2 separate regions of the Homo sapiens genome follow, and region 2 is linked to region 1. Evidence: fine-mapped QTL for protein levels in blood plasma. Region 1 holds a variant in brackets. A gene starts in the other region. All regions are shown on their reverse strands.

Region 1 (5,000 bases):
CACCATGCCTGGCTAATTTTTGTAGTTTTAGTAGAGACAGTGTTTCACCATGTTGGCCAGGCTGGTCTCGAACTCCAGACCTCAGGTGATCCACCTGTCTCAGCCTCCCAAAGTGCTGGGATTACAGGTGTGAGCCACTGCATCTAGCCTTGATGTTTTTTTTTTTTTTTTTTTTCTGAGCTCCAGAGATTGGTTTTAAGAGAAACCTTTTTGTATCTTATATTTTTATTTATTGCACTTATATGTAAAAGGTATGCTAAATTTTTAGTATAGGCTAGCTGTTTCTCTATTTATTGCTCAAGGAGTAAAGTTTCTATTTGTATTCCTAACAGTCCAAACAAGGCCCATCATGACCTGCCCCAGCTTATCTTTCCTCCTCCGAAGTTTCTATTTGTAGTAAAGGGAATTAAATACTCTTGAATTACTGTAGGCTGGATTTGAAAAATACAAACTTTTTGGAGATTGAATTGAAAACTTTAGTTGGAGGTCTGTTGATAATATCGAGTGAATTGATTTGGTATATTAGACATTTTTTCAGAGAGAAGATTCCATGGTATAAATATTAAAAACCAGAGAGTATAACATTATTGGAAATTCCTTAATAAGTAAGTTCCAGTGTAGTGGTTGTCAAAGACCATAGAGCTTTTTGATGATTCCATGAGGTCAAGACTGTTTTCATAAAAATATCAATCAAATGTTATTTACTTTTTTTCAGTATATGACATTTGCATTTATGGTGTCAAAGCTGTGGTAGATAAAATTGCTGATGCCTAAGCATAAATCTTGGCAGGGAACCAAACGGTGCTAGTACTCAATGTATTTTTCATCGCTGAGCATTTGCAGTTTTTTCTTAAAATGTCACTTAAGAATGTCCTTGATGACGCAGTAAAAGTTAATTTTATTAAATCTCACCCATTGAGTATGTCTTTTTATACTTCGTGTCATGTAATGGGAAGTAAACATAAAGTTCTGCTCTATACCAAAATATGATGGTTCTCTCAGGGAAAAGCACTTTGGCAATTGTTCGAGTTCTAAGTTGCACCAGCCTCCCCTTTTTCATGGAATGTCATTTTAGATTGAAAGAATGACAGACAAACTATGTTTTCAGACTGGGATTTTGGGAGACATTTTCTTGAAAATTAGTGAATGAGGCTGTCTTTGAAATAAAATAACTGATAGTGTTTGTTGCCACTTTAAAATTTTGAGTTTTCAAGCAAAAAATGAGAATTTTGGAAAATATGTTTCTCTAACCATGAGCTTCACACCTTCTCATTACAGATTTTCTGATGAGATCAGTGGTAATAATAGCAAATGCGATAGTTGTTACTGTGTGATGAAATGTATCCAAATTTGAAAAACTTGCTTTAACTCTACTTTCCAAATGGCCATTTCATGATGTTATAATGTGATATGGTTTGGCTTTGTTGCCACCCAAGTCTCATCTTTAATTGTAACTCCTACAATTACCATGTGTCATGGGAGGGACTCAGTGGGAGATAATTGAATCATGGGGCAGGCCTTTTTCTCATGCTATTCTCGTGATAGTGAATAAGTCTCACAAGATCTGATGGTTTTATAAAGAGGAATTTCCCCGCACAAGCTCTCTTTTTTTGCCTGCCCCATCCATGCAAGATGTTACTTGCTCCTCCTTGCTTTCTGCCATGATTGTGAGGCCTCCCCAGTCATGTGGAACTGTAAGCCCTTTAAGCCTCTTTTTCTTCCCAGTCTTGGGTATGTCTTTATAAGCAGCGTGAAAACGGACTAATACAATAAATTGGTACTGGTAGAGTAGGGTGTTGGTGAAAAGATACCTGAAAATATGGAGGCGACTTTGGAACTGGGTAACAGGCAGAGGTTGCAACAGTTTGGAGGGCTCAGAAGAAGACAGGAAAATGTGGAAATGTTTGGAGCTTCCTAGAGACTTGTTGAATGGCTTTGACAAAACTGCTGATAGTGATATGAACAATAAGGTCCAGGCTGAGGTGATCTCAGATGGAAATGAGGAACTTGTTGGGAATTGGAGCAAAGGTGAGTCTTCTTATGTTTTAGCAAAGAGACTGGCAGCATTTTGCCCCTGCCCTAGAGATTTGCAGAACTTTGAACTTGAGAGAGATAATTTAGGTTATCTGGCGGAAGACATTTCTAAGCAGCAAAGCATTCTAGAGGTGACTTGGGTGCTGTTAAAGGCATTCAGTTTTATGAGGGAAGCAGAGCATAAAAGTTTGGAAAATTTGCAGCCTAACAACGTGATAGAAAAGAAAATCCCATTTTCTGAAGAGGAATTCAAGCCTGCTGCAGGAATTTGCATAAGTAATGAGGAGCTGAATATTAAGTTCCAAGACAATGGGGAAAATTTCTTCACAGCATGTCAGAGGTCTTTATGGCAGCCCTTTCCATCATAGGCCTGGAGGCTGAGGAGGAAAAAATGATTTCATGCCCTGGACCCAGGACCCCCTTGCTGTTTGCAGCCCAGGGACTTGGTGCTCTGCACCCCAGCAGCTCTGGCCATGGCTGAAAGGGGCCAAGGTACAGCTTGGGCCGTGGCTTCAGAGGGTGCAAGCCCCAAGCCTTTGCAGCTTCCATATGGTGTTGAGCCTGTGGGTACATAGAAGTCAAGAATTGAGGTTTGGGAACCTCTGCCTAGATTTCAGAGGATGTATGGAAACGCCTGGATGTTCAAGCAGAAGTTTGCTACAGGGGTGGGGCTCTCATGGAGGACCTCTGCTAGGGCAGTGCAGAAGGGAAATGGGGGGTCAGACTCCCTACTAGTGCACTGCCTAATGGAGCTGTAAGAAGAGGGCCACCATCCTCCAGAATGGTAGATCCACCTACAGTTTGCACTGTGTGCCTGGAAAAGCCGCAGACACTCAACGCTACCCTGTGAAAACAGCCAGGAAGGAGGCTGTTCCCTGCAAAGCCACAGGATTGGAGCTGCCCAAGAC[C/T]GTGGGAACCCACCTCTTGCATCAGCACGACCTGGACGTGAGACATGGAGTCAAAGGAGATCATTTTGGAGCTTTAAGGTTTGACTGCCCTGCTGGATTTTGGACTTGGATAGACCCTATAGCCCCTTTCGTTTGGCCAGTTTCTCCCACTTGGAACAGCTGTATTTACCCAATACCTGTGCCCCCATTGTATCTAGGAAGTAACTAACTTGCTTCTGCTTTCACAGGCTCATAGGGGAAGGGACTTGCCTTGTCTCAGATGAGACTTTGGGCTATGGACTTTTGGGTTAATGCTGAAATTAGTGAAGACTTTGGAGGACTGTTGGGAAGGCATGATTGGTTTTGAAATGTGAAGACATGAGATGTGGGAGGGGCCAGCGGCAGAATGATATGGTATGGCTGTGTCCCCACCCAAATCTCATCTTGAATTGTAGGTCCCACAGTTCCCATGTGTTGTGGGAGGGACCCAGTGGGAGATAATTGAATCATGGGGCAGGTCTTTCTCATGCTATTTTTGTGATAGTGAATAAGTCTTAGGAGATCTACTGGTTTTAGAAAGAGGAGTTCCCCTGCACAAGTTTTTTTTTTTTTTTTTTTTTTTTTTGCCTGCCGCCATCATGTAAGACGTTACTTGCTCCTCCTTCCCTTTTGCCATGATTGTGAAGCCTCCCCAGCCATGTGGAACTGTAAGTCCATTAAACCTCTTTTACTTCCCAGTCTCAAGTATGTCTTTATCAGCAGCGTGAAAATGAACTAATACATAATGGATCATGCATTGATAAAAGATTGATAATGTTTTTTTAATATACCAAACGTAAGATAGGTTACAGATTTTTTTCTTTTTTCTTTTTTTTTGAGATGGAGTCTCACCCTGTTGCCCAGGCTGGAGTGCAGTGGCATGATCTTGGCTTACTGCAACCTCCGCCTCCCAGGTTCAAGCAATTCTCCTGCCTCAGCCTCCTTAGCAGCTGGGATTACAGGCGCACGCCGCTATGCCCAGCTAATTTTTGTATTTTTAGTAGAGATGGGGTTTCACCATGTTGGTCAGGCTGGTCTTCAGCTCCTGGCCTCAAGTGATCTGCCTGCCTCAGCCTTCCAAAGTACTGGGATTACAGGCGTGAGCCACCGCGCCTGGCCAGATTATAGATTTTAACAGAGTATGAAGGGTTCCTTGATATGGTATAAGATTTCATATTGTAACTAACAAATAAGAAGTGACACTTGGTGAGTTTTGGTACAGTATCAAAAAATAGTATGCATAAGTATCTGAAAAATCTGTTAAAATATTCTTCCCTTTTCCAACGACATATCTGTGTGAGGCTACATTGTTTTCTTATACTTCAACCAAAACATTAGATTACTTAATGTAATCCACAGATTAGATCATATGTGGAAGCACCTTGAGAATTGTGCTGTCTCTGTTAGATCAGACATGGAAGAGATTTCCAAAAGGGGAAGGTTGTGCCACTGTTTTAGTAAGTCATTTTTTTTTTTTTGGAAAATGGTTACTTTTCATTAAAAAAATAAATTCTTGGCCAGGCGCGGTGGCTTATGCCTGTAATCCCAGCACTTTGGGAGGCTGAGGAGGGCAGAACACAAGGTCAGGAGATCGAGACCATCCTGGCTAACATGGTGAAACCCCGTCTCTACTAAAAATACAGAAAAAAATGTTAGCCGGCCATGGTGGTGGGTGCCTGTAGTCCCAGCCATTGGGGAGGCTGAGGCAGGAGAATGGTGTGAACCCAGGAGGCAGAGCTTGCAGTGAGCCGAGATCGCACCACTGCACTCCAGCCTAGGCGACAGAGCGAGATTCCATCTCAAAATAAATAAATAAATAATAATTTATGAGTTTATATTGTTTTTAATAATTTAAAATTTTGAAGTTTTCTTAGTTTTAGTTTCTGATATAGTAAGTGTCTATCTGGCTGTCTATATTTCTCCCATAAAGAAAAGCTCTTTGGCCAGGTGCAGTGGCTCACGCCTTTAATCCCAGCACGTTGGGAGGCCGAGGCGGGCAGATCACGAGTTCAAGAGATCAAGACCATCCTGGCCAACGTG
Region 2 (5,000 bases), not on the chromosome of region 1:
ATTATATGTTTCAATTTGTAGGAAATTCTAGAAAAGGCAAATCAAATCTATAGAAAGCAGATGGAGAGTTACCTGGTTCTGGGAGGTTTGGGGTGACTGGGAAGGCACACAAGGAAACCCATTGAGATGATGGAAATGTTCTAGATCATGACAGTGATTGCTTTTACATCAGTGTGTATGTTTGTCAAAAATCATTGAATCATATACTTATGATGGGTTCATTTCAATGTATATTAATTATAACTCGATAAGCTGATTTTTAAGAAAGAGAACTATAAACAAAATATTCAGAGTGGTAATTACTTCTGGAGAGTACACGAGGAGTGGGTTAGAAAAGGCACACTCAAGTAGATGTAATAGTATCATGTTATGTTCAAGTTCTTTTTTTTTTTTTTTTTTTTTTTTTTTTTTTTTGAGACGGAGTCTCGCTCTGTCACCCAGGCTGGAGTGCAGTGGCGCGATCTCGGCTCACTGCAAGCTCCGCCTCCCGGGTTCACGCCATTCTCCTGCCTCAGCCTCCCGCGCAGCTGGGACTACAGGCGCCCGCCACCACGCCCGGCTAATTTTTTGTGTTTTTTAGTAGAGACGGGGTTTCACTGTGTTAGCCAGGATGGTCTCGATCTCCTGACCTCGTGATCCGCCCGCCTTATGTTCAAGTTCTTAAAACAGTCTGGGGATAGGCTCATGGCTTTTCATTTCATCGTAGTATTTCATAATTTATATTCATGTTACTTTTTTGTATGCATGCATGAACTATCACATTATAAAAATAAAAGTGTGAGAGAGCTTAACAAATAAAATGTTATAGCCTTTATATCTGTGGAGGAGGAAACACATTTTAATCTGAACATCTTGTGAAGGCACTGGAGCAGGACACACAGGAAGAGATGTGATGAGAATCAACCTAAGACCCCAACAACAGATGAATCCATAAAGAAAATGTGGTGTATATATACAACGGAATACCATTCAGCCATACAAAATGAAATCCTGTCATTTGTGACAACATGATGAAGCTGGAGGACATCATGTTAAGTGAACCAAGCCAGACACAGAAAGACAAATACCACATGAACTTACTTATATGTGGAATCTGAAAAAAATAAGAAGTTGATATTATGGAAGTATAGCATAGAATAGCATCTATCAGAGACTGAGGAGGGAATGAGGAGGGAAGAGAGGGAAAGATTGGTCAACAGGTACAAGGTGCCAATTCGATAGGAGGAATAAGGTTTGGTGTTTTATTGCACAGTAGGGTAACTATGGTTACTAGTAAGGTATTATATATTACAAAATAGCTAGGAAAGAGGCTTTTGAATGTTCTCACCACATAGAAATGAAAACTGCACGAGACAATGGATATGCCAACCACCCTGATTTGATCATCACTGTACAACATATATATGTATTATATTGCAATGTCAAACTGTGCCCCATAAATATGTACAATTACAATGTGTCAATTAAAACATTAAAAAAACCAACAGATTAAAAGAAAAAGAGAGAGATGAAACAGCAGAGTGTATGCAAAAACAGCTTTACACCCTGGATTTAAAGGGCTCTACATTCTCATTCAGGAGATTTTTTTGCATTGGTCCTGAAACTTTACACTAAACAAGCTTATCCCCACACAGGCTTTCCTAAGCCAATAAATAAAGCTATGGAATACCTATTCGTTTTCAGCACTTTCGCTGTTAGCCTGGTTACCAACATTGCTCCCTTTTCCCTCTGGTTTTGCGTATCACTGAATAGTTTCTTTTCTCAGTCATACTCATTGAGCTGGATACCTGGACTTAGACATCATTGCCTGACAGCATCTTTCCCCTAATAGGTTACTTTCCACACATTCTAGTTATTCTTAATCCTAGACACTCACGGATTTAAGAAATGTTGAAAATTAAGATAGCTTATTCTCCTCCAATCCCTAATCTAGGCTTCACTTGCCTAGAACTGGTATCCCTAATGTGCTAAAGGTAGCAATGGGAGAGATTATAGGTGCCCTGATTTTGAGGGAAAAGAGGGGCAATTTTACAAATGCCAGAGTTAGTACTAATGGTGAACCCTTCTCAAGTGCCCTGAAGCTAATTTGCATATACTTCTTTTCTGTATTTCATTTTCAAATATCCCCCAGATTGTAATTTGCCGTGATTTTATTTTTCAGTGATTTCATGCTCATTTACTGGTACACTGAAAGTTTGAATATCAAAGCGTATATCTGTATGAATAGGTTGACCCTGTACATAAGTCATCATATGCAGCAAGGGTCAGACACTACACATAACCGGGGTGACAGCCCCATCAGTCCCTGATTTAATGACATGTTTGCATAATATGACTATACTAGAGAAAGTTTGCATAGTGGGACTATATTGCTGAGCAAGAAGAATGTGCCAATTAGAAACAATCCAGGAGACATCCCTATCAAAGGTGAAAAGTATTGTAGATGTATCAAAGATGAATTTCAGCAGGACCATAACCTGATGAGACTCATCAAAGTAGGAAACTGCCTTTAGAAAACTTCCTTTGAAATACCTGAATTCTTGAAAAAGTCCCTCAAATATTGATGTGTACTATCTGCAGCTTGTGGAACTGAATCAAACTATATTTAAAAAGGAGCATCTTTAATTTTCTCAGACTTCATAGAAAAGGAAATGGAGACTGGTCACTAGAGGGTTCTTCTTCCTTCTACTTCTGCTGAAGGGTAACTTCCGATATCAACTTCCTCAAACCTCTGATGAGCTGCTGCTGCTCGACTCTGAGGTGCATTCTTTTTTTGATGAGAGGCATCTCTAGGTACCATCCCTGACCTGGTCCTCATGCTGCCGAGGCTGTTGCTGTTGATCTGTGGTGAGTTGGGCAACTCAGAGCAGGGCATGGGATGCAATCATGCTTGGGCTCTGCTTCCTGAAGGGCTGTAAGGACTTCTTAGGACTAAGGTTCTGTCAGGTAATGCTCAGGGGTGCTCAGATCTCCACTTCCACGGAGGGCTCAGAGTCAGGCAAAAAGTTGTAGATATTTCAAAAAGCCAGAGTTTTCAAGAAAACTATCATTTCAGTTTTTATCTCATAGGAAGTGTTCACTGTCTGTCTTCCTTTCCATCAATAATTGTCTTTGTTCTCAGTGTTTTCAACAGCTGCCAAAAGAAAAATCTGTATAATAAATAGGCCTCTGAATTCCTTGCCCTTCTTACTACCAACGTTATTTCCTTTTATCCCTCTCTGACTCCCCATTCCCACAGTCAAACCTTAGAACTTATCATCACTCCTTTGTTTTCAGCATACATCCCCCACCCCCACTAAGTTGTGTTTCTAGCTCACTTTCTCCTGCACTCTATTTCCAACATGACTTCAATTACCCCAGGGCTACTTTTCCATTATCAGTAACTACACTTCATGTGCTCACTTCTCATGGTGCTCAGCTCAGATTCTGCAGCTCACCACCACAACACTCCCTCGAGCACACCTTCATCTCTCTTCCCCCATAGCACTCTCCTGGTTTACACGCCCTTCTGCATGCTTCACTCCTGGACATAAACAGCTGAATGGGATTTTTTTTTAAATGCACAACCCTGATGACTTATCCCCTTTTAAGTGTAGGACCCCCAAATCTCAGGTAGCCAACAGCAATGCCAGGCAATTATCCTACATGTTCACAGTCCATGTTGCTCCATTATCACTATTGCATACCTTATCCTGTCACCTCATACTTCTCTGTTCACTCTCATTGTGTAATCTTGCTTCATATTTCATTGAGAAAATAAAAGCAGTCAGAAGAAAACTCTCTCATCTTTCTGTTGCTGTTGACCTACTCACCTCTGCATTCACATACACTGCCTTCTCTTCCCCTACCACGAATATATTGCCCCTCATCTTGTTGATGACAAGACTCTCCACTTGTGCATTAGGCCCATGACCCTCTTACTTTCTCAAAAAGTTTGCTCCATCATCAATATGTTTCTTCATTCTAAATTATTCCCATAAGTATACAAACATGCTACAGTATCTTTTATTAAAAACAGCTTTATTGAAATATTATTCACATATAATACAATTCACCATTTAAGTTATGCAATCCAATGGTTTTTTATGACAATCACTGAGTGGTGCAACTATCACCACAATCAATTTCAGAATGTTTTCATCACCCAAGAAAGAACGCCATACCCACTAGCAGGCATCCCCAATTTTTTTTCCAACGCCTCACCTATCCTCACCCCTCTATTTTCTGGCCACATGCAATCATTATCTACTTTCTGTCTCTCTATATTTGTCTATTCTGGACACACACCCCATATCTAACTGTAATTATATATCCCTTGAGCAACATTTCCCTCATTCCTCCTTCCCCACTATTACCCAAGCTTCTTGTAACCATGATTCTGCACCGTCCTTCTATGAGATCAACGTTTTCAGATTCCACATGAGTGAGATAATGCAGTACTTGTCATCCTGTGCCTACCTCATTTCATTTAACATAATATCCTTCAGGCTCACCCATGTTGTTGTAAATGATAGGATTTCATTATTTTTTATGTCTGAATAGTATTCCATCATGTATGTATATTGCATTTTCTTTATCCATTAATTTTTTGATGAACATCTACATTGATGCTGTCTTGGCTATCGTGAATAGTGCTGCAATAAATGTGGGAGTGCAGATATCTCTTTAACACACTGCTTTAATTTCCTCTGGATACATGTCCAGTAGTGGGATGGCTGAACCATATGGTAGTTCCATTTTTTATATTTTAAGAGCCTCCATACTGTCTTCCATAATGGCTGTTCTAATTTACAGTCCCACCTACAGCATGTGAGGATTCTCTTTTCTCGACATCTTTGACAATACTAGTTATCTTTGGTCTTTTTGATTATAGTCATTTTCATAGGTATGGGGTAATATTTCATTGTGGTTTTGATTTGCATTTTTCTGTTGATTAGTGATATTGGGCATTTTTTCATATACCTGTTGGCCATTTGCATTTCTTCTTTTGAGAATTAGAC

Alleles and levels. Alleles are on the strand shown, and positions count from the first base shown. The strength of an association depends on the size of the effect and on how common the allele is.
With allele C in place of T in region 1, the plasma level of the protein whose gene starts at base 2,734 in region 2 is lower (weak association).

What was found. A credible set is the group of variants that fine-mapping cannot tell apart. PIP is the posterior inclusion probability: the model's chance that the variant is causal. Protein levels are from antibody-based Olink assays in UK Biobank. Linkage for the fine-mapping came from a reference panel and not from the study's own genotypes, which makes the PIPs less certain.
Region 2: FCRL1 starts here. The variant in region 1 is the best candidate, but not a certain one, in a credible set for the plasma level of the FCRL1 protein (UK Biobank, PIP 0.56).

What each region holds. Positions count from the first base shown.
Region 1 is chr17:16,112,690-16,117,689 of GRCh38, reverse strand. The region is part of intron 18 of NCOR1 (nuclear receptor corepressor 1); the gene reads left to right. Among named protein-coding and RNA genes, the nearest start is that of SNORD163, 38 kb to the left of the region's middle. RefSeq lists a silencer at 3,867-4,064. The variant C/T (reference allele first, on the strand shown) is at 2,943.
Region 2 is chr1:157,817,854-157,822,853 of GRCh38, reverse strand. It overlaps FCRL1 (Fc receptor like 1), which reads left to right and starts at 2,734. Exons shown (of 11, transcript NM_052938.5): 1 at 2,734-2,847. The coding sequence starts at 2,817.